Linked DNA regions of Homo sapiens. The protein of the gene in region 1 interacts with the protein of each later gene in a pairwise test. Each region holds a gene or a part of one and is shown on either strand. Other genes may lie near its edges. The genes, in order: CHRDL2, FAH and SLIT1.

What was found.
Region 2: the proteins of CHRDL2 (region 1) and FAH interact in binary tests that used the Homo sapiens proteins (3 or more experiments, as listed by UniProt).
Region 3: the proteins of CHRDL2 (region 1) and SLIT1 interact in binary tests that used the Homo sapiens proteins (3 or more experiments, as listed by UniProt).

The regions. Positions count from the first base shown.
Region 1 is NC_000011.10:74,706,393-74,716,586, forward strand, and holds part of CHRDL2 (chordin-like protein 2 isoform 2 precursor), read right to left. Parts: intron 7,088-10,194; coding exon 6,994-7,087; intron 4,976-6,993; exon of another isoform or gene 4,694-4,975; coding exon of another isoform or gene 4,600-4,693; coding exon 4,457-4,599; intron 2,004-4,456; coding exon 1,910-2,003; intron 151-1,909; coding exon 95-150; intron 1-94. UniProt on the Homo sapiens protein: May inhibit BMPs activity by blocking their interaction with their receptors. Has a negative regulator effect on the cartilage formation/regeneration from immature mesenchymal cells, by preventing or reducing the rate of matrix accumulation.
Region 2 is NC_000015.10:80,146,659-80,157,011, reverse strand, and holds the start of FAH (fumarylacetoacetase), read right to left. Parts: upstream 4,014-10,353; 5' UTR 3,958-4,013; coding exon 3,877-3,957; intron 1-3,876.
Region 3 is NC_000010.11:97,181,987-97,192,811, forward strand, and holds the start of SLIT1 (slit homolog 1 protein precursor), read right to left. Parts: upstream 3,974-10,825; 5' UTR 3,689-3,973; coding exon 3,492-3,688; intron 1-3,491. UniProt on the Homo sapiens protein: Thought to act as molecular guidance cue in cellular migration, and function appears to be mediated by interaction with roundabout homolog receptors.

The DNA.
Region 1 (10,194 bases):
CAATAACTGGTATTGCCTGCCCCAGAGTCACGAGATTTAGGCCCTGGATCCCAGCCCCCTGTCCCGCACCCCGTCAATAAGGCCGTGCACTCACCACCCCATGGAGCGACTGCACACTGTCCTCTTCATCCGATTGCTCACTTGCCTCATCTGAAAACTCAAAGGGAAGCTGGGTCAGCCTCAGGCTCCCCAGCCTTGCTGGCTAGAGCCCTGAGGCCTCCACCTATAGGCTCTGTCCATTCCCAAGGCCTGCTGTCCCATCTGCAGCCCCAGCCCACTAGCCAGCTCCTTTGCCCCAGTGGGGACTTCTTCCACTTCCCATTACAGCCTCTCTTCATCCTGGTTGGGTTGATGAAGTCCCCTACAACTGGGTTGCTGCCTCAGTTTCCCTGTACTGACCTCCTGGTAACCATTAGGACTGAAGTCCTTGAAACAGAGCATCTTGTTTGGTCCTTACTGAAACTCACCTCTCTGGGACACTGGGCCATACCTTTCAGTATTTACCATGGATGGCCCAAAGGCCCAGAATCCCATCCCTGCAGCCTGCATAGATGCAGTTTCCTGGGCAGCCACACTTGAAGTCAGCAGGCCTTGGTTTACACTCCCAGGACCCTACACTCCAGCCCCTTCGCCCCTCCAGCCTGAGCACCCTGCCAGTCCCTATTCCCCTGGGAAACCAGCACACAAAGCCGTTTGGAGCCCTGCAGCTTCCTAAACCCGAGTGGGCCTCTCTCTCCCTATCTCTTGCCTCACTCCACAGTCTGATTCCCACCAATCATTCCCGTTTCAAAGACCCAGAACATTGGAATTAGACTGTGTTAGAAATCACAGGGCACAACTGAGGCCCAGAGAAGGGAAGGAATTTATGGAGTTAGCTGGAAGAACCAGGACTAAACTGGAGTCACCTGATTCCTAGTCCAGTGCTCCTTCCAAAATGCAAACATCTGGGGATGCATCCACTGTGGAGCACTCCCCTACCTGAGTGCCACCTCCTCCAGGAGGCTTTCCTTGACTACCTCAGCCTGCAGGGAACAGTCCGACCATTTCATTCTGCTCACGCTTAGCCTGCCCTTTGCTAGCTGATGTGTTGCCTCCCTGCTTTATAAGAGGTTCTACCTGGGTTCTGTATAAAAGACATGTTCTGAGCCCTGGTGAGCCCAATACTGTGACCAGCTCTGCCGTCAGGAAGGCAGGATGAGACGTAGTCCTTACCTGTACTAGACCCCTCTCACGTGCCACTTATGGTTCTCTCAGCTCATCTGCTTGCAGGGACTTTGTCCCCCCATGGCAGGCACTGCAGCAGCAGCCCCCCTGCACGGGCTCCCCAACACTTCCCTCAGGCTCAGCCTCACAGTGCCCCTCCCTCAAGCCCGCAGCTCCTGTCCACATCCCCTGCGCCCACTCCTTACCCCAGCCCACTCCTGCCTCTGCTCCCAGGGCTACTTAGCACCCACCCATGCATGCACAGCAGGGAAGTCCCACACATGGATGAGCTTTGGGCTCAATGGAGAGATAGTTGGTGGCTGGTGGACACATTCTTACTGCTTCCTCTACCACGCCCAGACTTTTCTGAGAAGCAGAGACTACTTAGAGCAATAGGTCACTTTTGCTTGGTTAGCAAGCAGAGGCCAGCCCCTGGACATATTCCTGTATTGCTTCTCTCTCTTTACCTTCTTCACTCTGCCTTTCCCTCTTTCCTCCCCCAATGACTGCAATAAAAATAAGTAACACATCAGCTTCTGCCAGGCTCTGCTTTCTGGGGGGTGCAGGCTAAGCCACACCCTGGAGGAAAGAGCCGTCTGCTACATGCTGGGTGTCACCTGCAGTTCCTCACGGCTCTCACAGTCCATGGCTAGGCCCATGGAGTGGAGGGGTGGGTGAGTGCTGCCAGATGGAGGGACAGACTCACCTTTGCAGGCCTGGCAGCAGGAGTCTGGCAGCGGGAGGGGTGCTGGGCAGCCTGGTTCGGGGCAGGTTGTGAGGCCGCAGTAGATCTGGCCCTCCTGACAGATAGAGCAAACCAGCTGGGAAATGAGCTCTGATAAGGGCTAGCCTTGGGGGCTAGGAACACCCCCTTCCCTGGGAGCAAATGGCCTTGAGGTCTCTCCTATGGTGGGGAGGGGAAGCAACAGCATCTCCACAGCAAGGCCCGGCCAGCTCAGAGGAGGGGTCCCCCGTGCCCTCCCAGCCCCACTTCCAGGCCCTGCAGGTAACATCCAGCCTTCAGCTTCTGACTCACTCACAGCCAGGCTGTCCCTAGCTGCTGCCTGGTAAGGCGGGAATCTCCCTATCCTACAAATGAGGAGCCGGAGCGGGGCCTGAGCCATCTCAGGTTAGAAAGACAGTTGGGGCCCAGTCTTCAAGCTTTTCCCACTGAAATCAACATCATGGGAGGGGGACAGGTGGGTGATACCTGGGCTCATCTTGCTCTTTACTGAAAGCCCTTGGTTTCCAACTTTGGGATCCAGCCTTGAAAGGCAAGACTGCAGGGGAAGGGGCCTTCTGGGGGTCAGGGGCCAGGTGACCATTGGTGGTCACTTCTTTCCTCTGGGCCTGAGATTCCTCCTCTGTGAAGTGGGGTCACACCCATTTGGGGTGTGAAGATCCAGTGAGGGAATGGCTGTGAAAAGCACAAGGCACAACGTGCCTGGGGGGAAGCACTATTGCCCTGAGACCTTTCCCTGTTCCCTTTCCAGAGGGTCTGAGAAGTGAGTGTTCCGGTCCCTCGGGTGAGGCCAGAAGAAAAGCCAGCCTCATATAATCAGGGATGAGAAGGAAGAAGGGGAGGCCCAAGTACCCAGGGAGAATGAACAGAGGAATCCTGGGAATGCTCTCACCACCCACCACCCAGCATTTCTGTCTCTCGCCACAGCCCCCTCCTCATCCAGGCCTCATCCCTTCAGGGGAGGCAGCAGGACACAGGGAAAAGAACATTGGCTTTGGAGCCAGGTGGCCTTGGGTCTGAATTCTGGCTCTGTCACTTACTAGCTGTGTGATCTCAGGCAAGTCACTTAACTATTCTGAGCCCGTTTCCTCATCTGGAAAACAGAAATAGTGATATCCTTCTCCTAGGGTCATTCGGGTACTGTCTATAAACCAGGCATTTCTATGAACCTGGTGACACAACAGACTAGACCACTGCAAAAGGCTCACACCCTGCAAAAGGTAATTGCTTACTAGGTTGATTTATAAGTAGTCACTCCTCATTATTTGCAGGCTGTTTGCTCTGCAGCACAGAAACTTTAAGATTCAAAGACTCAGACTGATGGGACCCTGTCACTGAAAAGATAGGGAGGCAGGCCCAAAAGAAGTGACTTGTTTGAGGTCACACAGGGAACTGGGACAGTGCTGGAGATCAAACACAGGTTTCTGATACTAGTCTGGAGAGAACATTAATGATCACTTGGTCAGACTCCCTTACGCACTCAGAGGAACTGAGGCCCAAGTGTGGTGATCAGGTAGTAAATAAATCGGGAGGGCAGGGACTTCTCCTGCCAATTCACGGATGAGTTGCCAAGCCCAGGGTTAAAAATGACATGCTGGGCTGGGCGCGGTGGCTCACGCCTGTAATCCCAGCACTTTGGGAGGCCGAGGCGGGCAGATCACGAGGTCAGGAGATCGAGACCATCCTGGCTAACACGGTGAAACCCCGACTCTACTAAAAATACAAAAAATTAGCTGGGCGTGGTGGTGGGCGCCTGTAGTCCCAGCTACTCGGGAGTCTGAGGCAGGAGAATGGCATGAACCCGGGAGGCGGAGCTTGCAGTGAGCCGAGATCACGCCACTACACTCCGGCCTGGGTGAAAGAGCAAGACTCCGTCTCAAAAAAAAAAAAAAAAAATGACACGCGGAAAGCCACCTGCAAACCTATAGGAAGGCCATGCCTACACCCCAGTTCCCTTACAAGGAGGAGGCTGAAGACTTTCCAGAGGAGGCCCTGCTTAGCTTCAGTCTCTGTCCCATGATAACACTGCCGAGTCAGCCCTGCCTGCCCGGAGGTCCAGCTCTAACAATAGGCAGGAGGAGTTTAAGTAGCTTCAGATTAATTTCCATTTGCTACAGATAATCTGGCCCTGTCTCTGTCCCCCAGGACTGATAACTGATCATTTGCGTATTCATTCTCTCATTCAATAATCATTACAGATGTCTTTTGTGCTTTAGGCCCTGGACTGACAGCAGAGGATAAAGAAATGAAAAACATATGTTTCCTCCCCTCAAGGAATGCAGCGTCTACTGGGGGAAACAGAAGGCTCAGGAAGGTGTGGAAGCTCAGAGAATGGTCACCTGACCCAGCTAGGGACAGGACATTCCAAACCCCAGATATTCCCTTTCCCCTGAGCCCATTCATTTTGCTTTGGCCAGGAGGAACAATCCCCCCAGTCCGCAGTCCAGGCTACTATGTTCTTTGCAGGCCCAGAGCGCTGGCCTGTGCTGAAGGGAAGGCAGGAGTTCTTACTGTGCAGCTGCAGAGGACACACTGGTTGGGCAGGCGGGAGGGGAACAGCTCATGGGCACTGAAGATCTCTCCGTGTTGGTACATGGTCCCGTTGTGCTGGCAGGACTTTGGTGGGGCCCGGAGTCCAGAGGGAGTGTGAGGTTCTGCAGTGGGGGAGGGGCAGGAGGAAGAAGAAAATGAGGTTTCATGTGAATCTTTGCTGAAATTAACAAGGCCACTTTTCTGATGATTTTGCATTTGACCCCAGCTTGATATTTAAACCAAGCTCTGGCCTGGGCCTTGCCAGCCATTCCCCTTATCAGCTAACTAAGAGGTCCCTCTGATACCTACATCTGACTGAGTCCCTCCCTCCCATGACCTCTACCACAGCCCTCCAGCCCCCTCAGTGTCTGGGCCAGCCCCAACCAGAGCAAGAAGGTAAAGCCGGCAGCCTCAGCTTCCGCTCAGTGGGGCCCGAGTTAGTTCATCCAGCATTTAATGAGGGTTCATGGAGCACTTCTCAGTGCCAGGCACTGTTCTAGGTGCTGGGGATACAGCAGTGAGCAAAAGAGTCCCTGCCCTCACAGGGTTACATTCTAGTGGTGCCAGCTGGCATGATTGTCCCTGTGCTTGGGTAAACTCCTGTCATTCACTGGCCCCCAGAGCCCCCCTCCCCATCACCTGCCCATCAGTCCGTCCTCATCCTGCCAGGTGGAGGGGTAAGCCTCTGGTCCTGAGAGAGCCCACTCATTCATTCAAGACCCCTTGACTAAGCACTCCTCTGTTCTACGCACCATGCTAGGCATTGGGAATGGAGCAATGAGTAAGATTTAGCCCTTGCCACCAAGAAACTCAGACTCAAAAATTACGGGTGAGGTGGCTCACGCCTATAATCCCAGCACTTTGGGAGGCTGAGGTGGGAGGATCACTTGACTCTAGGAGTTCGAGACTGGCCTGGGCAACATTTTTTAAATTTTTTTTCCTTTTTTTCTTTTTTTTTTGAGAGAGGGTCCTGCTCTGTCACCAGGCTGGAGTGCAGTGGCACGATCTCAGCTCACTGCAACCTCCACCTCCCAGCTTCAAGCAATTCTCCTGCCTCAGCCTCCTGAGTAGCTGGGACTGCAGGCACATGCCACCATATCCAGCTAATTTTTTTGTATTTTTAGTAGAGATGGCGTTTCACCATGTTGGCCAGGATGGTCTCAATCTCTTGACCTTGTGATCCGCCCGCCTCGGCCTCCCAAAGTGCTGGGATTACAGATACAAGCCACCGTGACTGGCCAGAACTTTTTTTTTAATTTTTAAAAAAGAAGTTTGAAATCTAATTAGGCAGAAAGACAAGCCACAAGCAATGATGCTGTAGCAGGTGAGGGCTAGGGTGGATGGAAGCACAGAAGTTGTGACAGCAGAGAGGAGGAGCCTCTAACTCAGCCGGGGAGGAATGGCCAGGGAAGGCTTCCTGAAGGGCCGATGGCATGGCAACGGTGAGCAGAGTCTTGAAGAACTGTGGAGCCAAGCAGGCACAGGGGCAGGGGATGGGAAGAGAGAGGGAGTGAAGAGTGTTTTAGCAACAAGAGGCCTGGGCCAAGCACAGGGGAAAATCCCAAAGTCAGCAAGGAGAGGTGAGGCCCCCCAGAGTCGGCATCAGACATGAGGACACTCCCTCACTGTGCAGGATGAAGCTGAGAGCCACTGTCCCCCCGGGGACCCACAGCCAGGAATCTCTATGACCCATGTAGGGGCCACGAGTCAGATCCCTACTGGGCTCCCCCCTGGAAAATGAGCCCCACTCCATACCAGCTCACCAGGAAAGTCCTGATTCCAGAGCCCCGACCCGAGGCCAAAATCTGGAGCCTCTTCTTCACCACTTTCTTGATGCTTCTAAACATCAATTTTCCTCTCAACCTCCCCTCCCACCTCCAAGTTGGCCTCCCCTCTGGCTGCCCCTCACTGGACACTTGGTTTTGCCAGTTTCTTCCTAGACCACCTCTCCTTTCTCTGACTTCTTCTTCCTAGAATCTTATTCTCAGAGGCTCTTAGAATCTTAAAATCATGGAATCATAGACATTTAGCATCAGGACACATAGAGTCCCTGAATCTCAGCAGTGGGAGGAATCTCAGAGAACAGGGCCTGACTCCTTTAGTCCTTCTGAGCTCCCCCAGTGGTAATTCTGGGGTCTCCCCTTAGGACCTTCAAGCCCAAGATCACTCACCTTCACTTCCCAGACTGCGCCCACACCCTCCAGCTCTGGAAGGCCCAAGGGAGACTGGAGCCTAAGTGTGCCAGTCAGCAGCCCAAGCAAGGCCCTGTTTCCTGCAGCTCCTTTCTGCATGTCCTCCCTCCCCTGCCATGCACACCTACTTAAGGACATGAAGTCTCTGCTACCCCAGCACTGCCTGGGGATCTGGGATATTTCCTCCCTTGAGCACCTTTGTGTGTCTACACCTCTGATGGGTAGAGACTGCCCCTCTCCTTGCAGGGGTCTCCCTCAGCTAGAGGGCTACACTGGGAGTAGGAGAAAGGTCCATGGACGATGGGGAGGAGCATGGCTACTTACCCACACACTTGGGACAGCATTGCTGTGGCTCCGTCACAGGCTGGGGGCAGTGGACAGGCGGACAGTGGAGGCGGTAACAACTCACATGGGCGCCCTGAAGGGGACACAAGGGTCAGCCCTGGTTCAAAGAACCATCGTCTTCCACCTGTACCTGTCCTTTCCCAAAACTCCCACCCCAACTGCAGAAGTCTGAACTTGTCGTAAGCCTGTGATTGGACTGAAAACAATTAAGTGTGCCCGGTTCCTCCCCATTCCTGCCCACCAAGGGGATCTCACTTGGCCCACATATCCATGTGCCTCCCCTACCCTGAAGGAGGTCAGTTCTGGTCATGGACTTGCTTAAACACTGTCCCCTTCCCAGAGAAAGACATGTAAGCCTAGAGTTGTTTGACATTGATCTTGATGCTTTGACTGCACTATTTTAACTCTAGGGCTTGGTCCTTTTAACTCTGGGCCTGAGCCTTGTGGTCAAGAAAGGAATGAAACATGAGGACAGGTGACTGGGAGGGGGTGTGAGACTGAAAACCTCATGTGGAGAAGACGGATGGCTTTATGATCCACCCCCTAAATCTCTGGGAGGTTTGGGTAATCCTGGACAAAGCCTTTGGAGTTGGCACCAGAGAAGGAGGGGCCTGAAGTTCCTTCTCTTTTTTAAGCATAGCAAGCGAGAGAATTGGGCAGGCGAACATACGCAGAGAGAGACAAGCAGAAACCGAGGCAGAGTGGCCACCACCCCTCGTGGGGGTCTTCCCAGCTCTCCAGGCAGTTTTTTTTTTGGCCCCTCAGCCTTCCCGCACCTTGTTCTTCACTCTGTTACAAGGGTCACTCTGCTGCATTGTGATGAACCATTTACACCTGTGTCACCGATTCAACCACGAATTCCAAAGAATGGGGCCTTGCTCCAAGTTAGTGGCTGCTGGAGTCTGAATGGATGCATGAGTGAGTGAATAAATGAGAGTAAGGAAAGGAGGGGTTGATGGTCCTCTCCTAGATGAAGGAAGCCCGCTTTGTTCACAATTCTGAAGTTGGCGAAGTTTGTTTCTAGCCCCGCTTCTCCCCCTGGTTCCTTCCTCCTGCCCTCTCCCTGGACCTGAGTTCCCTGATAGCACTTCTCCCAGAGGCAGCCTCTTGCCCCATGGAAGACCCTTGACTGGCCCTACGCCTTCTGGGGTCACTGCTTCCCAAGATGGCCAGAGGTAATCGCGAGAACTAGTCAGTGTTAAGGGGAATCCCAGAGTCCACAGAATTGGTCTGAGCTCTAATAGGGGCCTTCTAGAGGCCCAACGCACATGGGTGCTTAATAAATGTCTAGAGGATAAACCAGACACTAGACATCTGAGGTTCCCAGATGAGAAACTAGGATGGAGTGCAAGGGACTGTGTGGCCTGAAGAGTTAGAATCGGTCTCTTGATTCTGGCCTCGAAGGAGCCAAGGATGGCGATGATTATTAGCACCACGAAGCAGGAAACAGGATGGAGACAGGTTAGCGGTGAAAGGGCAGGTGAGGCACCTGGAAAAGCCCTTTGCAGTCACAGGGAACTTCTCAGGAAAGTCATAGCCTCCATTTATTGAGTGGCTACTGAGGTAGGGCCTTTACGTTATATAAAAATCATCCCACTTCGTCTTCTCAACACCCCTAGAGGTAGATACTATACTATTAGTCACACTTTCTAAATGAGAAAAGAGCCTTGAAAGGTTAAGTTGCCTGAGATCACAAAGCATGTAAAAACTGTCACCAGGGCCCGTGTACTTTCCACGATGCTGAGCTGCCTCTGGTGGGTAGACGTGGACTCATTCACGCTCAATACTTGCTGCAGGTCTACTGGGTGCCAGGCCTTCTTCTGAGCACTAGGAATTAGTGGGACCAACAAGGTTTCTGCCCTCCCGGAGCTCACATCCTAACAGTGAAAGATAGACTATTAAAGAAGTAAGCAAGGACCACGCACAGTGGCTCACGCCTGTAATCCCAGCACTTTGGGAGGCCGAGGTGGGAGGATCACTTGAGGTCAGGAGTTTGAGACCAGCCTGGCCAACATGGCAAAACCCCGTCTCTACTAAAAATACAAAAATTAGCCGGGCAGTAGTGGTGTGCCTGTAATCCCAGCTACTTGGGAGGCTGAGGCAGAAGTATTGCTTGAACCTGGGAGGCAGAGGTTACAGTGAGCCGAGATTACGACATGGCACTCCAGCCTGGGCGACAGAGCGAGACTCCAACTCAAAAAAAAAGAAAAAAGAAAAAGAAAAAAAAAAGTAAGCAAGTAGGAACAAGAAGATTTCAGATGTTAAATTTATGATATATAATAAAATAGAGGGCCTGGCGTGGTGGCTCACACCTGTAATCCCAGCACTTTGGGATGCCAAGGCGGGCAGATTGTTTGAGGTCAGGTGTTTGAGACCAGCCTGGACAACATGGTAAAACCCGTTTCTACTAAAAATACAAAAATTAGCCGGGCGTGGTGGTGCATGCCTATAATCCCAGCTACTCGGGAGGCTGACGCACGAGAATCACTTGAACTTGGGAGGCAGAGTTTGCAGTGAGCCGAGATCGTGCCACTGCACTACAGCCTGGGTGACAGAGCGAGACTCTGTCTCAAAATAAATAAATAAATAATAAATAAATAAATAGAGGAATATTATTTCATTAATAGGGGTAGACTGTTAGAAACAGCTGTCAGGGAAGGCTTTATAAGGAGGAAACATTTGTGTTATGAACTGGGAGATGAGAAGGAACTGTTCGTGAGAAGATCTGAGGGAAGAACATTCCAAGTGGAGGAAACAAGTTGGAATGAGGTTCAAGTGTTGGAAAAACCGACAGAGGTCAGTGTGGCTGCAGCAGAGTGAGCAGGTATGAAATGAAATTGGAGAATAAGGCCAGGCGTGGTGGCTCATGCCTGTAATCCCAGCACTTTGGGAGGCCAAAGAGGGCAGATCATGAGATCAAGAGATGGAGATCATCCTGGCCAACATGGTGAAACCCCATCTCTACTAAAAATATAAAAATTAGCTGGGCGTGGCAGCAGGTGCCTGTAGTCCCAGCTACTTGGGAGGCTGAGGCAGGAGCATCGCTTGAACCTGGGAGGCGGAGGTTGCAGTGAGCCAAGATTGCACCGCTGCACTCCAGCCTGGTAGCCTGGTGACAGCATGACTCCATCTCCAAAAAAAAAAAAAAAAAAAGAAAGAAAAGAAAAGAAATTGGAGAAT
Region 2 (10,353 bases), on another chromosome or scaffold:
TTTCCATTCAGGGAATGTGCAGGGCAGACCCTTGGACCACATCTCTGACCCTGGTCCCCACACCCCAGCTGAAGGCAAGAAGGAGTCACCACCAGTAAGCAACTTCCAAAATGGGGTCACAAGTGCAGCTGCCTGCTGCCTCAAATGCAAACAAAGCCTAGAAGCTTCAAACTTGTGCTTCAAACTATGACCTGAGGACCCAGAAAAAGTCTGAGAGAGTGAGTCCCTCTACTTTCAACCTTGGGAGTTATTTTCTTCAGCACAAAACTAGAGGGGGCTCACAGGTCAGATCCAGGATTCCTGGGCTCCAAGTCTGCTCCCTCATTCACCATCTTATCACCTTGGACAAGTCTCTGGGCCTCAGTTTCCCATCTGCAACTTGAGGGAAACAAACTAAGGAGGGAGACCGCATTTGTCTAACTTCAAGAGAATGAATGTGCATTGCCTTTGTTTTAAAATAGTTGGTCATATCTGATATAAAGTTGTCCAAAGGAAAGCATTACCCAACTCCCAGCCTGACATAGAGGGGGAAGCATGGGATTGGTGTGGGCGAAGGATTACCCAGGTGCCGAGGCAAGAGACTGAAGGCATAAACTGTAGCTATACTGCTATACAGTTGTAATACAAATTAGATATACAGATGATCATGGACAATTATCGATTATTAGTATAAACATTATTAATCATTAGTTTTTAATATTACTCTTTATTGTAGTACAATATAACCTAGGAATAACCGGTGGGTATAGGGTCAGGTACTGAAGGGACATTCTGAGAAGTGACCTAGAAGGCAAGAGGTGAGCCCTGTCACACCCGCATAAGGGCCGCTTGAGCGCTCCTTGGTCAAGCGGTAACGCCAGTGCCTGGGAAGGCACCCATTACTTAGCAGACCGCAAAAGGGAGTCTCCCTTTCCTTGGAGGAGTCAGGGAACACTCTGCTCCACCAGCTTCCTGTAGGAGGCTGGATATTATCCAGGCCTGCCCGCAGTCATCTGGAGGCCTAAACCCCTCCCTGTGGTGCTGTGCTTCAATGGTCACGCTCCTTGTCCACTTTCATGTTCCTCCTGTACTCCTGGTTCCTCTTTGAAGTTTGTAGTAGATAGCGGTAGAAGAAATAGCGAAAGTCTTAAAGTCTTTGATCTTTCTTATAAGTGCATAGAAGAAAATGCTGACTTATGCTGCCTTCCCTCTCTGCTTCGGCTACCTTAGAGGGAAGAGCCCCCGTCCCATGATCACATGACTTGCTTGACCTTATCAATCACTTGGATGACTCACCCTCCCTACCCTGCCCCCCTTGTCTTGTGTGCAATAAATATCAGTGTGCCCAGCCATTCGGGGCCACTACCGGTCTCTGTGTCTCAGTGGTAGCAGTGCCCCGGGCCCAGCTGTTCTCTCTTTATCTCTTTGTCTTGTGTCTTTATTTCTTACAATCTCTCGTTTCCGCACACAGGGAGAAAACCCGCTAAGCCCCGTAGGGCTGGACCTTACAGATTGGGAGGCTGACAGATGTGGGGATCAACCCCATATCTGCCTCTTACTGGCTGTGAGATCTGGAGCATGATGCTTTGCCTCTCTGGACCTCAGTTTCCTCATCTGTAGAATGGGGACAATAACTTCACAGTAGGTTTATTGTGAGAATTTAATTAATATCTGTAAATCTCTCACCACAAGAACAGACACAGGGTAGACGCTATTCATGCCACAAAGATTTAGAGAGCATCTTCTCAGTACCAGCATTACACAAAGGCTGCTGAGGCCCTGGGAACAGTGACGTGGTTCCTTCTCTCCAGAAGCAAAAGGAAACACAGGGTGTGGTGAGAGATAACCAAGGCTGGGCCGCAGCGGGGAGCTCATTCAGAGAGGGTGCTTAGGAGGTGACATTTAAGCTGAGTCCCAAAGAGTGAGAAGGGGCCAAGCATATAGAGAGCAGAAGGACGAGTATTCCAGGCAGAAGGAACAACATGTGCTAAGGCCTGAAGGCAGGAAGCTGCTCTTAGCACATCTCAGAGACTCAAAGGCAGCCAATGTGGCTGGAGAAAGCAGAGGCCAGGAGGCAGCAGCACAGCCAGACCACGGGGACTTTAACAAGGCACCCGGCAAAACCAGCTCCACACTACTACAACCCCGTTCTCAGAGGCCACCACCCCTACCTTCACAGAGAGCACCCCTGTACACCTTACTAGTCCATCAACCAGAAATGGAAGGAAGGCGTCTCCTGTGTCTTTGATGCCAACTCGGAGCCCAGGCAAAATCTGGACCAGAGTTGGGGTTCATAAGCATTCGCTGAATAAAAAAAAATGAATAAAGTGATGGCAGGATTCATTGTTATTCCACTCAAATTAGGAAAGGCTGACTGCTGACATGGGGGAAGGGAGGTTTTGCCTTGGCAACTAGTCTTGCCTGGCAAGGCAGCCATCACGGTTGGAATGTCCAATGCCTGCAGAGAAAGCTTCAGAAGAGGCTTGTTCAGCTGGAAGGCCAAAGGGCCAACTCTCCACCCCCAGCACTGTATCAGAGGACAGCGGAATGGGGCTCTCTCTTCCAGACATCTGTAGTGGCTGCCCTGCACATTCTGATGTTGAAACAGCGGGACATGGTGTCTGAAAACACCTAGCCACACTCTAACGGATATTAATTCGATTCCCCTGAGAAAGCAAGTCAGAGCTCCCTACTGGGGTGTGCCTGCCTCTCACAAATGTTTCTGTCTAATGGATTTGTGCTCCCAGGAAAGGTGAGGGAGGACACATCTGCCGAGGGCAAAGTGTTTGAGGAGGGCAGAGGGAGGGCTCTGTCTGCAGAAAGGTTGTTGGCCATCACAAGTTAAGATTTAATGTGCCTCAGATTGTGTCCTCCAGGGGATTGAGTGTCCACTTTCTGTATCCTTGCAACATCTGGTCAGCCCGGCCAGATGTGAAACCACAAGTTGACTCTTCTAGACCAAAGCACTTACCGCAGACAGGCCCACAAAAGGCCAGCCACTTGCATCCAATGACAAGCCATGGGGGAAGGAGGGAACCCCACTTTCCAAGAAGAAGCCAACTGCCAGGCCCCTCGTTTAGCAAACATTTCCTGATTCTGGGGTTCTATGGCTTACAGAGATGAATCAGGAGTTTACCTTTAAAGTTGGGAGCAGAAATCTAAGCCAAAAATATCATCAACAAATCCAAGGGAATCTGCTTTTCCAACCTAGGGAACCTCTTATTATCTATTTGCTGATAAACCCCCAGTTTTCAAATACTTCTTTCTACCAATCAGACTACACTGACTTAGTCAAAGTTTGTTTCCCTGCCCTCTTTCTTCTGATCAGTAGGGGAATGCCAGGGAGCCCACACCAGGAGCTGAAAGAATTTCAGCTATAGGCAGAGACACTTGCCATCTTAGATCTCACAACTCTAAGCCAAGAAACGCGCGTGCCCCTCTGACCTGCTACGCATACCGGGTTATCATTTCCCGGGTTCTAGGGTTAGGGGCTATCCAGCGAGATGAACCACCAGCCCTGACCTGGCCTCTTGGGCGAGAGAAACACACCGCAACCACCTCGGAGTAGGCAGCATGCCTGTGTGCTGCAGCTTCCGGTAACAGAATCCTGCTTGCTCTGCTTGTCTGGGAGAGTGACACGATTCATTTCATTTTGCATTTAATTCTCAGCAAACCTGCGGACAATGAGGCTGAAAAGTTAAACAACGTGCACAGCTAGAAAGTTACGAGGCGGGACTCGAGCCCATAGGCACTCTCACGGAACGAATCTTAAGAGAAAAATGGCACAAGCCTCCATCCCGCCCCTCATTCCACTCCATTCCACTCCACTCCACTCCACTCCACTCCACTCCACTCCACTCCCTCCCCGCGCCCGGACGCCAAAGCCCCACTGCTCACGTCGCCTCTGGTCGAGAAGACGCCGTAGGGCAGGTTGTGGATGGGGAAGTCGGAATCCTCGGCCACCGGGATGAAGGACATGCTGAAGAGCACCCGGCACGGCTGCGGGCCTAAGGTGGCGTGCGGAGAGCAGGACTGAACTCGGCCGCTGTGGTCAGGCCCGGCCCCGCCCCCCTGCCCGCCCCCACGGCCTGTCCGGGTGACACAGCAGGGACCCCGGAGGCTCCTACCTGACTTTTGGTCTCACCGTGAACACCCCGCCCCCGAACCCCGAGCCCTGCCCCTCCCCCCTACCCTGACCCCCGCCAGCTCCAGGTCCTCCACAGTCTCGCCCGCCCTTCCAGAGCCCCGCCCCGCCCCTGGCCCCGCCCCCGTGGGCCTCAGGTCCTCCAGTCTCTCCTCCCTCCCTGAGCCCCGCCCCTCCCCTTGCCCCGACCCCGCGAGCCCCAGGTCCTCCACAGTCTCACCCTCCCTCCCTGAGCCCCGCCCCTCCCCTCGCCCCGCCCCTCCCCTCGCCCCGCCTTGCAAGCCCCAGGTCATCCAGTCTCTCCCTCCCTCCCTGAGCCCCGCCCCTCCCCTGGCCCGGGTACCCGAGAGTCCCAGGCCCTCCAGTCTTGCCTCACTCCCCGAGCCCCGCCCCTCCCCTGGCCCCGCCCCCGTCCTGATCCCCGCCCTGTCCGCGAGTCCACGTGGGGGAGATCTGGTTCCAGCCCCCGCTCGGGGCAGCTAGCTGGTCCTACCGAGAGCAAACCCCAGCTTAGCATTTAAGGCTCTGCCCTGCATGACTCCAGCCTCGCTCGCCCCGGCTGCTGCCCTGCTCTTCAGCTCAACAGAACTCTTGTCCGCTTCCTGGAAACACTTTCTCCCCAAGAGCTGCTCCCTGAGCTTCAGAAGAACACCCAGTCGCGTCCTTTCTGCCTTCATACCATGATGCTCCGTCCAGCTATGACACTTCCACTTGTATGTCAGAGAAGGGGACAGTTAGGCCTGTTTGGAAGGCTTCAATTAATGAGAATTAATATTCTAAAAAATATAACTCACCTGTTTCACATGCCAGTAGTAAAATGACGTTGACAAGATGCTCAACCTTGGACAAGTTACTTAAACTTTCTCTACCTCAGCTTCCTTCTCTGTATAATGTTGATGATAATAGTTCCTACTTCACAAAGTTGATATAAGAATGGAATGAATTAATATTTGTGAAGCACCTAGAATAGTGCCTGGCATATACAGGTTATGTGTGTGTGGAAAGAGAGAGAAGGGAGGGAAAAAGAGGAAAGGAGGGGAGGGGGATAAAGGAAAGGAAAGATAAAAGAGAAATAGGAGAAGAGAGAGAGGGAGAAAGAAAAGAAGGAAGACAGGAAAGAAGGGAAAGGCAGACTATCTTAGGGTGGGTTCAAGGTGTTATCTAATCACTCATGTGCAGTCAGCTGCAGTTTTTTGAGACCATGCCACAGCCAGGACACTTGGAACACACCGGAGAGTGTGTCGTTGTGTTATTGTTGGTGTGAATGATTCAGGTACACTTTTAAACAGCCAGGATGCCGGCTGAAATCTAGAAAAGTAGACGATAGTCTGGGCAAGGGTTCCCTGAAGATCCTTGAGGAATGTGACACAGTGACTGCTGAGTTAGGGAGGCTGCTCCGCATTTCAGCTTAGGGAGAAGAGGCTGGAAGATGGCAGGATAATGTGAGCTAAGTGGGCTTGAAACCAGACGGCTTGAGAGGAGCGAGTACGGCAAGCAGGGCCCGCTGTTGAGCCCCCCTTCCTAGCCCCTGAGATCACTCTGGTGCCTGTCCACCAGGCGTGACCAGTGATCATCACCCAGTAAGGAGTGTAATCTGGGCACAGCCTCTTGGCTCTCATCTCCTGCCCTGAGTGGCTCTGCCAAGGACTGGCTTCAGTTCTTTTAAGTCAGCCCTGGGGAGGGAATGAAGGTGGTCTGATTTGTTCTGGTAGGTTCCTGAAAGAGGAAAAGAAGAGGAGAGTATCCCAACTTGGTGGCCTTATAAAGAGGCATTCCAGGGAGCACTTGATACCTGCCTAATTCAAGCTAGTCCTCAGCTGCAACGCAATGAATTATTTCCACGTTCTGTAGTTGCCCTGCCCCTTCCCATTAAAACCACGAGCTTTCTTATTCCATGTGCAACTCTGTCAATACCCAGCAAAACACCTGGCACAGAATAGGTTCTCCATAAATACATGTCATTAATATAAAACTGTTGACCAAAAGGAAATGAAGCAATAACTAATAAGCCCATGCCCTATGCCAGGCCATGGGGATACACCAGCAACTCACATCTTTAATTCCTGTTTTTATGGAGCATGTGTTGTGTGGGGGATGCTAGGCCAGGAGCTTCTACTGAATACATACAAGTTAACAAAAGCCTAAATGATAAAACCCTTGGAGAAAGAAAACCAAAGTATTTTAGGGAAAGGACATGGGGCAGATGTATGTGTAGGAAAGGGTGTGGGGATGAGATGGCTAAAGAGGGAGTAAGATTTCATAGTTTTAAAATAGACTTAACCAACCCACTAATTATACACAGTGTCTGAAAACGCCAAAGCTGTTCTCTATTTGGAAAACAGCATTTGAAATAACTTGCAAGTATACTATATTTTTTCTTTCTCATTTTTTGGAAGAGAATGTGTTGGCCACGTATATCACAACAATTATTTAAAAAGAATTTTAAAACAAAGAGATTGCCCATAATCCCACCAATGTAGTCTTCTCATTTTCATGTTTTTTTTTCATTCCATTTGTATGCACATGGCTTTTCCATCCTTATAAACTTTACATAGATGCAATTTTTCAGTCTTTCCCTACCTTATTCTCTTGAATATTTTTCCTTGAGGCCCAATAGGCTTTATTATGATCATTGTCATTAGCTAAGGAAGTCGCAATGTTTTAGATGGTAATAATAACGGTTCAATGAAGAGGTGCATGCACAGAATGTTTTCCTTTTCCTTGACAATTATCTAAGGAAGATTCCTGACTCAAAGAGTATGAACACTTTCAGGACTCGCAGTGAGTTTCAGCATCTCCAGCAATGAAGGCTGGTTTGGGTCTCTGTAGCACCATATTTAATGCCTCCCTCTGATGCTAAAAAGCAACACACTGCACTGCAGCCCTCATTCACACAAAGCATGTCCCTCACTCCTTTACAAGAGAGCTGAGAGAGAACTTTCCAGATCCAGGACACTAATGTCTTGCAACGGCTCTGAGAAGCTGGCAGTTGCCATTCAGATAAGCAAGGTGTGGACGCTGCCTGCACTGGGAAGCAGGATGGGGTGGCCTTTTTTGCAACATTCAGCACTGCTGCATGGTCGTCAAGAAAAAGAGGAAACTATGTCAAAGGCCAAGCACTTTAGCAAAGTAAGTGTCCTCTCTTTTTCAGGTCTGAGCTCAGTGATGTTTATGGTACACATTTTGTAGTGGGCATCATGGGTTTGGCATGTGTCCAGTACATTTTAGTATCAAGAATATATGTCATGTGCAAATATACATGACATTCTGTCCTCTCAAAGGAGTTCAAAATTTAGAGGATCTTGGAACTGAACGTAAGTAATTCAAGTGCAAGTGCATGTTGTAGGGTGGGGAGAAGGGGATTGGATGAAGTCCTAGGTGAACCAGCTCAACCAGGGCTAGGTTTTCTGCAATATAAATTTTCTTCTTCCTGCCCTCTTTAATTCTGTCTTTAGTCTGTTTCAGGTACTATTGTGTCTATGTTCTGATGGAATACTACCTCAAATCCATTTTGGATTTAAGCTGGATTTGCAAGACTCACAAATAACAAGCAGCACCTTAAATAAAGAACATGTCATTGCCATCTGACTTAATAATGTGTACCATATAATGAGTTCTCTGTTACCATTATCAAAGCAGGAGCCACTTTTTAGACTCTCCCTCACTGTTATTTCAACAAAATACTTCTAATTTTGTTTTGTTTTCTTATAACTAAATACATATTCAATAGTTTTCCCATCTGAATTATCCCTTTTTTCCCATCCAAATGTTCGGTGCCTTTTTGAGCTATAGCTGTGGATCCCACTCTGCTCCCAGAAATACAGAGGAATGTTGACACATAAGTTACAACCTCTGTATTCAACCTGTTTGGCACAGCTGAATAGATCATTCTCAGTGCCTCTCTCTGCAAACATTGTTTAGTTTGTCAACAATAAATCCACACTAAAATTTCCCTGTCTCTCTTTCGCTCTCTCTTTCTCTCTCTCTCTCTCTCTCTCTGTCACACACACACACACACACACACACACACACACACACACACTAAAGTTGGTTAGGCATGATTTTTCCTTGTGGCCCTTTCCCTAGATGTTGAACAAAAGGAAACAGTATGTGGTAACAGAATATATATGTCTGTTGTTGTTGTTGTTGGTTTGTTTTTTGTTATGTTTTGTTTTGTTTTGTTTTGTTTTGTTTTGAGACAAAGTCTCGCTCTGTTGCCCAGGCTGGAGTGCAGTAGCACGATCTCGGTTCACGGCAACCTCCACCTCCCAGGTTCAAGTGATTCTCCTGCCTCAGCCTCCCAACTAGCTGGGATTACAGGCTCACACCACCACACCTGGCTAATTTTTGTATTTTTGGTAGAGATGGGGTTTCACCATGTTGGTCAGGCTCGTCTTGAACTCCTGACCTCGTGATCTGCCCACCTCAGCCTCCCAAGTTGCTGGGATTACAGGCGTGAGCCCCTGCACCCAGCTGTAAGAATATATATGTTAAGGTTTCAAATAAGAAAGATTTGAAATCTCTTTCTAGAACGTTCATATTGAGTTTGGGTTTAGGTTACTGTACCTCACCAAATCTTAATTTCATGCATTGGAAAAATGAAATAATAAAAACGATACCTGCCTTGTAAGGTTGTTTAGAAGATCAAATAAGAAAACCCCTGCAAAAACTCTCAGCATATTGTGGGACACACAGAAAGTTCTCAATAAATGTCAGCAATCCTGTTTTCCTCTTCCTTACCTCCCCATCACTAATGTACATAAAAGTATAACATGCAACATGAGAAGTAGATTGACTCTGTCTAAGAACATCCTGTGTGAGAGCATTCTGTCCTGCCCTCCCTCCTCACCAGGATTCTGATTGTTGTTGTCAGATGTGTTCCACATCTCAGCGGCTGTCTGGGACAACACCTGGAGAATTCTTTTTTACTTTTTTAGCTGACAAATAAAAATTATACATATTTATCATGTAAAACATGTCATTCTGAAATAGGTACACATTGCACAATGGCTAAGTTGAGCTACTTAACATAAACATTACCTCACTTTTCATTTTTTTTGTCCTGAGAACATTTGAAATCTACTCTCTTGGCAATTTTCAAGAATATAATAAGGCCAGGCGTGGTGGCTCACGCCTGTAATCCCAGCACTTTGGGAGGCCAAGGCGGGTGGATCACAAAGTCAGGAGATCGAGACCATCCTTGCTAACACGGTGAAACCCCCTCTCTACTAAAAATACAAAGATTAGCTGGGTGTGGTGGCACGTGCCTGTAGTCCCAGCTACTCGGGAGGCTGAGGCAGGAGAATCACTTGAACCCGGGAGGTGGAGGTTGCAGTGAGCTGAGATTGCGCCACCGCACTCCAGCCTGGGCAACAGAGCAAGACTCAGTTGGACTAAAAAAAAAAAAAATACGGTTATTAATTATAGTCAGCATATTTTCCAATAGATCTCTTGAACTTATTCCTCCTATCTGAAATTTTGTGGGCTTTAACCAATATCTCCCCAACCTCCCAGCCCTTACCCCCTGGTAACCATCATTCTATTCTACTTCTGACTTCAACTTTTTCTGGGATTCCACATGTAAGTGAGATCATGCAGTATTTGTTGTTCTGCATCTGGCTTATTTCATTTAATATAATGTCTTCCAGCTTCATCCATGTTGTCATAAATGACAGGATTTCTTTTTATGGCTGAATAGTATTCCATTGTGTATACAAACCTTTTGTTTATCCATTCATCTGCTGATGGACACTCAGTTTGATTTCATATCTTGGCTATTGTGAATAATGCTACAATGAACATGGAGGTGCAGGTATCTCTATGACATACTGATTTCATATCCTTTGGATATATACTTAGCAGAGGGATTGCTGAATTATATGGTGGCGCTAGTTTTAATTTTTTGAGGAACCCCTATGTTGTCCATAATGGCGGTACTAATTTACATTCCCACCAACAAAGTACAAGGGTTCCCTGTTTTCCACAGCCTCTGCAATACTTGCTGTCTTTTGTTTTTTTGATAATAGCCATTCTAACAGGTGTGAGATGATATCTCATCGTGGTTTTATTTTGCATTTTTCTGATAATGATGTTGAGCATTTTTTCACATACCTGTTGGCCATTTTTATGTCTTTTGGGAAATGTCTATTCATATCCATTACTCATTTTTTAAGAATTAGGTTACTTGTTTTCTTGCTATTGAGTTGTTTGACTTCATTATTTATTTTAGA
Region 3 (10,825 bases), on another chromosome or scaffold:
AATGGTGACCATGGCTGGGTCTCTCTGCGCCTGGGCAGTACAAAGAAAGGAAGCTTCCCGGGCCGCCTCCGCCACCTCTCCCAGCCCTGGCTCTGTATTTTAACTGTTCATTACAGTGAATTATTTAGCATCCCTTCCCTGCCCAGCTGACCAGCCCCACAGCCCCTCTGGCTGAACCAATTTCCTCAGCAGCTCTGGGGCCTACCCAACCTCTTTCCAGAAGTCCCCACAGCAAACCAATGACCATTTCTTTCCATTTCGGGGGACAGGCCTGGACCCAGAGTTATAGAATATATGATCATAAAGTTGCTGGGCCTCGCAGGCTGCCGCAGAAACTGCCCAAAGGACAAAAGGCAAATGCACAGCTGCAGTCCATAAAAATTTCACAGCCTCAGAAGAAGCCACTGTTTCAGGCTCTGATACTGCACAACACTCATATTGATTAGAGAGAGCATTTGCCACAGTTATTTTGAGTCTGCCTGGGCTCTCACCAAGGCCTCTTTCAAGATGTTCTTTTCCTCTTTGAGCAGCTCTTTCACGGGCTGCCTGGAGAACAGGCGGGCTCCCTGCGCTTTCCCAGTCCAGGAAGCTTTGCCCACATGGCAAAGATCAGACCTGCTCCACTTCCCCAGGATAACTCACCCCTGGCTTCCAACTAGGAAGTTCCCAGAGGAAAAGTTCACATATAGAAAGTCTTCCTGACCCTTCCCAACATCTCTTTCCAGCCTCAAGTCCCATCCCACCCACTGGCCACTGGCCAGAGCATGTTTCAGCCCCAGGGACAAGCTGGTCCATCTGCCCATATCGGGCCAGGCATGCTTACACCCGCAGGTTTTTGGCTCATACTCACACCTGCTGGCTTTTTGCTTATGCTCACGCCTGTAATCCCAACACTTTGGGAGGCGGAGGCAGGAGGATTGCTTGAGCCCAGAAGTTTGAGACCAGCCTGGGCAATATAGCCAGATCCTCATCTCTACAAAAAAGGAAAAAAAAAAAAAGACGTCTGCAAGAAAGCAGGCCCCATGACCTGACAAGCAGCAGAATGTGCTGGGCCTGGAGCCCAGCTGTTCCCTCTGCCTAGATTGCCTGCCCTCTGTGCTTGGCAAAATCCAAACCAACCTTGATAAAGTGGCCCATCCTCTGAGAAACCCCTTCACCCTGGAAAAGGGCTTCTCACCCCAGTGTTCCCACAGTCCGTTCCCTGAGGCTGCCTGGCCCTCTCCTGAGAGCTCACCATTAGAGGTCCTCTGCCCAGTTCTCTAGACCATGTGCCCCTTGAGGACAGGGATGGGCTCACTCCCTGCTGACGCCTCAGCACCCAGGGCAGTTCCTGGCTCCGAAACATTTGCTGAATTAAAATAATGAGATTCCCCTCCCTATCCTATCATAATAATGGCTCTCGTTTAGCGAGCATCAGAAGGTACCAGGCAATTCCCATACATGATCTTCCATCCTCACAAGAACCAGAGACCTTATGTAGCCTCAGCCCCATTTTCCTGATGGAAAGCAACTAAGGTTCAGAGAAGTTAAGTAACTTGCCCAAGGTCACACAGCTAATAGGTGACAGAGCTGGGGAACCAGGCAGTATAGCTCCCAGAATGCCACCTCTTTCCTCTGTACTAGGAAATTTCATTTTCATCTCACTCTGATCACAAAAGAGCTAAAGAGTTCATGGAAGTCTTAAACACTAAAGGTGGTGAGAGAGTAAAGAGGGAGGAGATGACTTTAAGACTCAAGATTCAAAAGCAAAGAAGAAGGGCTAATGTGTCTTAGATCTAGGCTGCAACCAGGGTAGCAGCTTCAGGAGAAACTCCAGTGGACAAGGCAAGGGGAGCAGGGAGCAGGTACAGAGGGGACAGGCATGGAGGGTGACCAGGCCACTGCGGGGGTCCTCTGGACAGATTTCTGACCCTCAGATCCTCTCTGGGTCCACACAGGATAATGCACACGCTGCCCACAGAAACTCAGTTTGGTACCACCTCTCCCCAGCCCTGTAACACACAAGCATTCACACACACACATACACATGCACCACACACACACACACACACACACACACACACACACACACACTTCCCATCTAGATTGCATCTAGATTGCAAATTCTCTAAAACCTCCACGGGAATTTTTCAGATGCAGCCAAGAAGAGTCTGGGGCAAATGTGTGCTCACTAATTGCTGGCCTTGGTACAGAGTCTGATTCGGGAGACAGCTCTCCTCAGGGTCAGATTTCTGTCTCTGACCAGCTGGGGGCCATGAAAATGTGCTCGAAAGTTATCAAAATATGCACACCTTTCCTGAGAGCCACTGCAGTCACCGAGGAGTGTGGGAAGGAGGAGTAGGTAGGTTTCAAAGGAGCCAGCAGCCTTCTCCAAAGCCCTGTTCAAAAATCTCCTGGTGTAGTCACCTCTGCGAGCAGTACAAAGGCCCTGCATGTGACCAAAATCTACACACACACAGCCCATTACGGGGACTCTCATGGCCTCACGCTATTAAGGTGGCCCCTTAATACTAGGAATTCACACAGAAACACATTCTGCAGGAGAGTCACAGAAAACAAAGTATAAAGGTCTGTAAATACACACACTCAAACACACCCAAACACACACACACACATTCTACTAGCTTACTGGGTCTAGAAAAGAAAAGGATCAAGTTTCCTCAAGAATTCACAAGTGAGACAGAACAGGGGAAGAGAAATGCTATTTTTTTATTACTTGTCATGGTCAATATCTTTAACCTTGGGCCCCCCTCTCCAAGCTCCTGACTTCTTGGCATTATCCACCGGGTTCTCCATCCAAGACACACCTGCCCCTTTTCGGGTGCTGAATGTTACATACCCCAAGCCCCATACCCAAAGCCCTCAGGTCCCATTGTCTGCCTGTGTTGGGGATGGCTGGGTGTGGAGGGAGGCGGGTGAGTAGGGGACCAACGCGTGGCACCTGCAGGGGAAGAATTCTCAAGGCTCTGGGGCAAACAATGGAGAAGAAGGGGCAGACCAGAAACTTCGCCTCCATCCCACCCTGCTGCCCTTCGTCAGGAGCAAGCTCTGGGAGCGGGAATCTGCGCAGCTGGCTCAGAACGCGGCCGTAGCCCCATGTGCCCAAAAGGAGACATTGTGCTTGGCGAGTGTGGGAAGTGTCCCTCCTGGGTGCAAGGAAGGCTTTCTGACACCAGTTCGCAGGCACCCTGGAGGAATAAAGCGCTGGCGCAGTGAGGAGGGCCTGAGGGTGCGGAGTGCAGGGTGCAGGGTGCAGGTGTGAGGACGGAAGCTGACAACCCCGCCGAGGGCCCTTTGAATCCCAGGGATGGGGAAACCACGGCGCTCCTGGCTCCTGGCTCGGGAAAGACCCCGGCAGGCACTGACCCGTCTGTGGGCTGCGGAGCCCGGACGGGCCCCAATGGTCCTGCCCCCACCCCCAAGTCCGGAATTGCGTCTGGGTGGGAGGGCAACCTCGGAGCCAGGGAGCCAGGGGCGGGGACCATACTCACAGGCGCTCGGTGTTCCGAGGTATATTCTTGGGAATGGCCTGCAGCCCCGTGCCGTGGCAGTCCACCGTGGTTCCGGTGCAGGTGCAGAGGGCGGGGCACGCCGAGGCACCCAGGCGCCACGCGGCTGCCCACAGCAGCAGCCAGAGCTCCGGCCGGACCGGCCCCGCCGAGGACCCCCACCCGGGAGTCAGCGCCATGGTGCCCTCACAGCGTCCCGCTCGCGAGCCAGACGGCAGCAGCCGCTGACCATCCCCGTCCGGGGCCGCCTCCAGGTGCAGTCCCGGGGCAGAGCCACCGAAGAGCCCGCGGGCTTGCGCGCGGCGCCCCTGCGGGCTGGGAGGCACCTTGCTCCTCCAAGCGACGGCGCCTGTGCGCGGACGGAGGGAGGGCGCCTTGGGCGGAGGGGGCTCGGCTCCTCTGCCGTTTCGCCGCCTGCGTCTCCCTCTCCCTCCCTCCAGCTCCCAACTGACTGCTGCGAGGAGGAAAATGGGCAGGCCCCGCGCGCGCACGCACCCTGCGCACACACCACACACACACACACGATCACACACACACCCGCGCGCTCGCTCCCACCCGGCAGTCATCCATCAATCGAAAAGCACACATCCAGGGCCAGGCTCCTCCCCGCCCTCCCCCGCCGCAGCCCCCCTCTCCCGACGACCACTCAGCGGCTGCAAGCCGCCTACAGTTTCAAAGGTGGAACCTCCGAGGCGCCGTCAGCGGGCACGGGGCTGCGGGGGATGGGAGAAGAGGGAAGGGGGTGTGACTCGACCCGCCAAGTCCTGGCTGTACACACACACACACACACACACACACACACACACACACACACACGGCGAGGATGCGCACATTTAGACGCACGCACCCCGGCACCCGCGGCCCCAGCTGCTAGTCCAGGGTGGGAGGGAGATCTTATTTTGCCGCTTGGACGCCTTCCCGGGGAGTCAGACCCGTTTCCCCCCATCCCCCGACGGCAGCAGCGGCCTCTCGGCCCCACCCGACTCGCTGTGTCAATTCTTGGTTAAGGGAAACCCTGTGCCTGTGCCCCAGGTAGCATCCTCAAGCCACCAACCTTACTTAGCCTGGACTTTGAGGATGGAGCTTTGTCGGGGGGGAGGGTCCACGAAAGCGCTAGGCGGAGTACAGTCTCCTTCCTACCTCAATGCACCCACTTCTCAGAGGGGAACAAGCTAGCCGCATGCCCAGGATGAGAATGGCTCTGATTGGAACACTTGCTCAGCAGGGCGTATTTGTACCATACAGTTACACGGGCTTCTTCCCCCGTTGTAGAAGAGAGGGACAGACATTAAGGGGACTTGGAAATCTGGCAAACGTCTTCCTCCACTCACACCAGCGTTCCTCCATTTCTGACAGGTGGAAACAGATGAAAATGAATATTCCATCTTGACATCAAAGGAGACAGAGAGGGCTGGCATAGCGCTGGGCGGCCTGCTTGGGAGAGAACCCCACAGGCCAGCCCCGTCAGACCCAGGCCTCACACCCGGCTGGGTAGGGACCTTCGTCACCGTAAGGCATGTGTGGACGTGGGTGTGAACGGGACATCCAGGTGGGGAGAGAATTCTCCTCAACCCCAGAAAAGACGAAAGATCTCCTCAACGCCAAGGACAGCTGTGGCTCGCTGGGGCAGTGTCCAGCAGTCGGGGCCTTGACGTGAGGCTGCTTGGCAAGAGGACACAGCTGGGTAGCCCGAGAAGCACCTCCCGTCTCAGGAGCGGCCTGGGTCCAGACACAGCATGGACGCATTTGGTGGGGAGAGTGTCGGGCAGGGTGGGGATAGGGGAGGTTGATAGACTCCACAAGGTTGAAGCCTTATCACCCACCAGGTACCCAAGGCTCAGGCGTTTTCTTTGCTTTTCTTTTCCATGTTGATGAGAATTTTGCAGTCTCTCTACTGTCATAGCACAGTATGTTACAATTTAGGTGGCTGATTTTATGGGCTTTTGACAGTTCTTTTAAAGTTTTCACACATCCCTGTCCATGACCTCCATCCGGTAAGTGGGTTCTTGAGCATAAGTTCAGTTTCTCAGGGGGCAGGGCTTTCTCAGGGGTGCCTGTGTGGTGGGATATTAGGGAAGCTTCCCACAAACCAGGCCGGAGTCTGAGAGGGCTGCCCCTGCCCTGCAGCTCACCAGCTCCTGCTCCATGGGGCCCCAGCCCCTCTATCCATGCTCTCCCCGCAGCCTCAGAGTGACATTCCTCCATGCCCGCTGCTTTGTTTATCCCCTCTTAGTACCTGCAGCTGCTTCTCCACACCCCTGCCCACCCCCTGGCATCCTCACTCGCTCACCCAGACACACACCCCAGCACCTGGCACTTAGTAGGCCTGTCACAGACAGCACTCAGGCTGTTGAAGATGTCTCCAGCCTTCTGCTCCAGCAGTAGCTCCCTGGTCCCAGGACCTCGGAGGGCCCCTTGGAAGCCAAGACCCATGTGGAGAAGGGAGAGAGTGTTGATTAGCCAGGCGACATGCCCCTAGGTCCTCAGAGTGACAGAGTGAAGGGGTATGAGGAAGGGTGGGAGTGAGCAGGGGTGCAAGATCAGCCCTGCCTATGGCTCCTGAGAACCAGCCCCTGCCCTAGAAGCTTCCAGACCAGCCTGGACAGTGAATCCCAAGCAGGCCCTGGGCTGAGTTGCTGCTGCCTGGCAAAGCCTGGCTTTTCCTCTGAAGGGAGGGAAGGAAGGAGCCCCCCAGACCCAGGACAAAGACTCCCCCAGCAGCCCATCACAGGGGGCCCTGCCCAAGCAGCGGGCAGCTCCCCAGCTTGGCTCCTGTCCCTGGTTCCTCCACCCCAGAACCTGGCCAGCTCCCCAATTCAGGAGGCGGCTCGCCATGAATGAGCGCAGCTCATTAGCGTGCCCGGCACATTTACTTGTTAAACAACTGCCTGGCTGGCCGCACACCCCCAAGCCCCACTCTGTTTTTTCAATTTCCTCTCCCATGCCCCTCCCTCTCTTGGGTCTCCCTACCCCCTCCCTGCAGCCGGGCCACCTGCTCCCGCTGCACGGGTGGGGAGGAGGCAGGCCTGGCACATTGCTTCTGCCAGGAATACTCCACCAAGCCTGTCCCTGCTCACCTGCCACCAGCAGGGCAACCCCCTGGAAGGGAAATTTGAGGTTGAGTCTCCCCAGCCCAGTGACGTGAGTCCCCTCTGAGTCCTCTCAGCCACATGTGCTGGGAGTTGAGGGCCACTTCCCCCGTGTGACTCAAGAAGAGAGCGTTCTCTTTATGGCTTCTGCACAGAGTCCTCTCTCCCACCGCCACCAGCCCCTTTTGGAGCACCAAGAAGCGGGAGAACCTGGGTGAGGCTGAGGAGCATTGTGGGATGGATTTCCAAACTGCAAAAAGGAAAAGTGAGACAGAATGCCTTCTAAGTAGACATCTGATAAACACCACTTACGGAGTATCTGTGTACTACATGTGCTGTACTGGAACTCAGCAATTCAACAGGGGACAAGAATGGCCCTGGCCCTCAGTGGGCTCACTGTCCGGTGGGGGCACAGAAACAGGAAGCAGGAAAGCATATTCATTTGGGTGTCAGCGAATGTGGAATTGCAGAGAACCCAGAATGAGGGCACAGAGTGGGGCTGGAAGGCTCCCTGGAAGAGGAGGCACTTGAACTAGGTCTTGAAGGATAAATAGGCATTCTCTGGGCAACAAAACAGGAAAAAAGGCTCTCTCAGCAAAGAGAAGCACTTGAGGCAAGTCACACAGACTGGGGGCAGCATTCTCAATGGCTGAGCTGGGGCACGTCCAGCAAGGCTGGATTGTGGCAGGGGGTTCAGGTGGGGAGCACAGATGGAGGTTACAGAGGTAATGAGGACACACCCCAGAGGCCCTGGTGCAGCCTTTCTCTGGCTTCACTGGGCTTTCAGCATCACCTGGCCTGGCCCTGTCCTCAAACACATGTCTATATATGCATGGGCTTGGAAATGCACCACCTCTGGAACCAGTGTCTCTGGAACCTGGTGCTTCCAGGGAGGTGACTTGGGAGGTAGCAAGGAGAAAGTTGCAGCAGATGTTTCTTTTCTACTGTTTGGGAGGTTTTTTGCTTGTTTTTTGAGATAGAATCATGCTGTGTTGCCCAGGCTGGAGTACAGTGGCACAATCATAGCTCACTGCAGCCTCCAACTCCGGGGCTCAAGCGATCCTCTCGCCTCAGCCTCCCAAAGTGCTGGGATTACAGGCGTAAGCCACCACACCCAGCCTTTGTTCGGATTTTTTACCCTGTGTGGTAGGAGCTAATTTCCCCCTACCAATACATTTTAACCCCCCTGGGGTGCTTATCATACATGCTGATTCCTGTGACCCACCCCCGATCTTCCCAGTCAGAACCTTCAGTGTTAGCAAGCTGGGAATGGGGGGTAGAGGCGGTGCTAATTCTGATGCAGGTGATTCCAGAGACCATGCTCTAAGAATCAAGGCCTGGTGTGCTGAGTTATGAGTTTGGAATTAGACTGAAAACTCTGGGGAGCCATTGAAGGAAGGAGCCTGGCAGGGACAATGGATCTGAGGCCCACCTGCCTTCCTCATCTCCAGGTTCCACACACCATTAGCAAGGATGAGGCATGTGAAAGAGAAAGATGGTCAAGGGAGAGTGGCAGGGGAGTACAAGATGTCAGAGCTGGAAGGGGATTAAAAAATGATCAAATCCAAGCACCAGTAAACAGTTAGAAGCCCAGAGAAATGAAGCAACCAGCCTGACCTCACAAGGCAAAGGAGCTGCAGAGGTGGGCCGTGAATGAGGCCACACACCCGGGCAGAACACAGCATCCAGTCCATCCTGGGCACTCCTCCTGGCCCTGCCACCACAGGGGAACTACGAAAACAGGAGTCTCTGGGAAGTCTGTGCCAGCAGGACTCATGATATCTTAGCTTTAGTCTCTAAACCCCTGGCTATTGTCAAATTTGGAGGAGGCTGAATTGTTGGAGGCTCTCAGTGGCAAAGCCTACAGCAAGGACAAGCTCCTAGACTAAAGGTCAAGTGGCGTTTATAGCCCAGAGGCCATCATAGGCATCCAAGATAACTCTGGTAAATAGAAGCACTGGAAGCAAGAGAGAAGCAAAGTGGGTGCTGGGGTGGGAGAAGAGGAGGAAAAGAAAGGCAGAAAGCAGGCAGACAGCCTGCACTGACAGCAACCATTCATCTATTCATCAGACATTGATTGCATGCCAGCTGAGAGCCACGCACTGGAAATAGAAGAGATCTGTGCTTTGGGTTCACTGGGTTTCCTGTATCTTGTTCACAGTTTTCATCAAATTTAAAGTTTTCAACCATTATTTCTTCACTTTTTTTTGTTCCCTCCTCTCTTTCTTCATTTTTGGGGGCCCCATTTATACATAATTAGGCCATTTGGAGTTGTCTCATAGTCCATGGATGGATGATGCCCTGTTCCTTTTTTTAGCCTTGTTTCTCTCTCTCTTTCGTTTTGGTGAGTTTCTCCTGGTGTATTGTCGTGTTCATTATCTTTTCTTCTACAGTATCTAATCTGCTGTTAATCCCATCTGGTAATTTTTTTTTTTTTTTTGAAATGGAGTCTCACTGTCACCCAGGCTGGAGTGCAGTGGCACAATCTCAGCTCACAGCAACCTCCGCCTCCCGGGTTCAAGCGATTCTCCTGCCTCAGCCTCCCAAGTAGCTGGGACTACAGGCGTGTGCCATCGTGCCTAGCTAATGTTTGTATTTTTAGTAGAGATCGGGTTTCACCATGTTAGCCAGGCTGGTCTGGAACCCCTGATCTCAAGAGATCTGCCCACCTCAGCCTCCCAAAGAGCTGGGCTTACAGGCCTGAGTCACCGTACCGGCTCCATCTGGTACAATTTTTATCTCAGACATTGTACTTTTCATCTCTAGAAAATCTACTTCGGTTTTTTTTTTTAATCTTCCACGTATCTTCTTAACATGCTTATATTTTCCTCTACCTTAGTGTACATATGGAATATAGTTGTAATAACTACATTACCAATTCTATTATATGTATCACTTCTGGGTTTGAAATGATTGATTACTTTTCTTCTTCATTATGGATCATATTTTCCTACTACGTAGTCCCCCCTTATCTACATAGGGATACATTCTAAGACCCCAGGTGGATGCCTAAACCAAGGATAGTACCAAACCCTATTACATTATGTTTTTCCTATACCTACATACCCTTGATAAAGTTTAATTTATACATTAGGCACAGTAAGAGATTAACAATAATAACTAATAAGAAAAATAGAATAATTATAACAATATACGATAATAAAACTTATGTGAATGTCATCTCTCTAGCTCCCTCTCTCTCAAAATATCTTATTGTACTACACCACAGATAACTGAAACCACAGGAAGTGAAAACATGGATAAAGGGGAGCTACAGTACTTTGTACCCTGGTAATTATAGATTTCATGCCAGACATTGTGGATTTTGCCTTGCTGGGTGCTGGATATTCTTGTATTTTGAAAAAATACTCTTGAGCTTTGTCCTGGAACAGAGTCAAGTTACTTGGAGCCAGTTGGATCCTTTTGAGGCTTGCTTTTAAGCTTTCTTGGGCAGGACCAGGACTAGCCTGTGGTCGAGGGCTGATTTCCCTACCCTTCTGAATGGTCTCCCCAGTGCCCTGTGAATTAGGAGGCTTCTGCTCTGGCTGGTGGAAATGCCAGCTAATCCCAACCCTGCAGGAACTCCAAGGATTGTTCTGCCTGCTCCTTTTGGGTGGAACTTTCCCACCTTCAGATAGTTTACACACAGGCACTGATCAGTTCTCAGCTGAAGACTAGGGGAGGAGAGGGTGGCACAGCAGGGAAGAACCATCTGCAGATCTCTAGCTGCTCATTCTCTCTGTGCAGCAATTTCCTCTCCCGTCTTCCATGGGAACCTGAGCCACCTTGGCCTCCCTGGACTCTCAGCTCTGATTCCTCAATTCAGACTGATGCTGGGTTCCACCTGGGTCCCCCTCTTGCTCTGTGGCCTGGAAACTCTCTCCACGCTGTAAGCCAGGCAGTTACAGGGCTCATCCCATTTGTTTCCTCTCTCTCAGAAATCACTGCCCCACACTACCGGTTGTTTAGTGTCTCATAAGAGTTGTTTCCATTTTTCCCTGGCTTGTCAGTTGTTTAAGCCAGGAGGGGTAAAATTGTCCCATTATATCTTCTTGGCCAGAAACAGAAATGTGGAAGAAATTTTTGACAATACTTCAAGCCCTCAAAACATGCTCTGTGTGCTGGGGAAAGACAGTCAAACAAACAGACAATTACATGACCCTGACAAGTGCCCTGAAGCTGGCCAGAGAGGAAGGGGCCTCAGCCACACAGGCTTCTCGCAGTTTA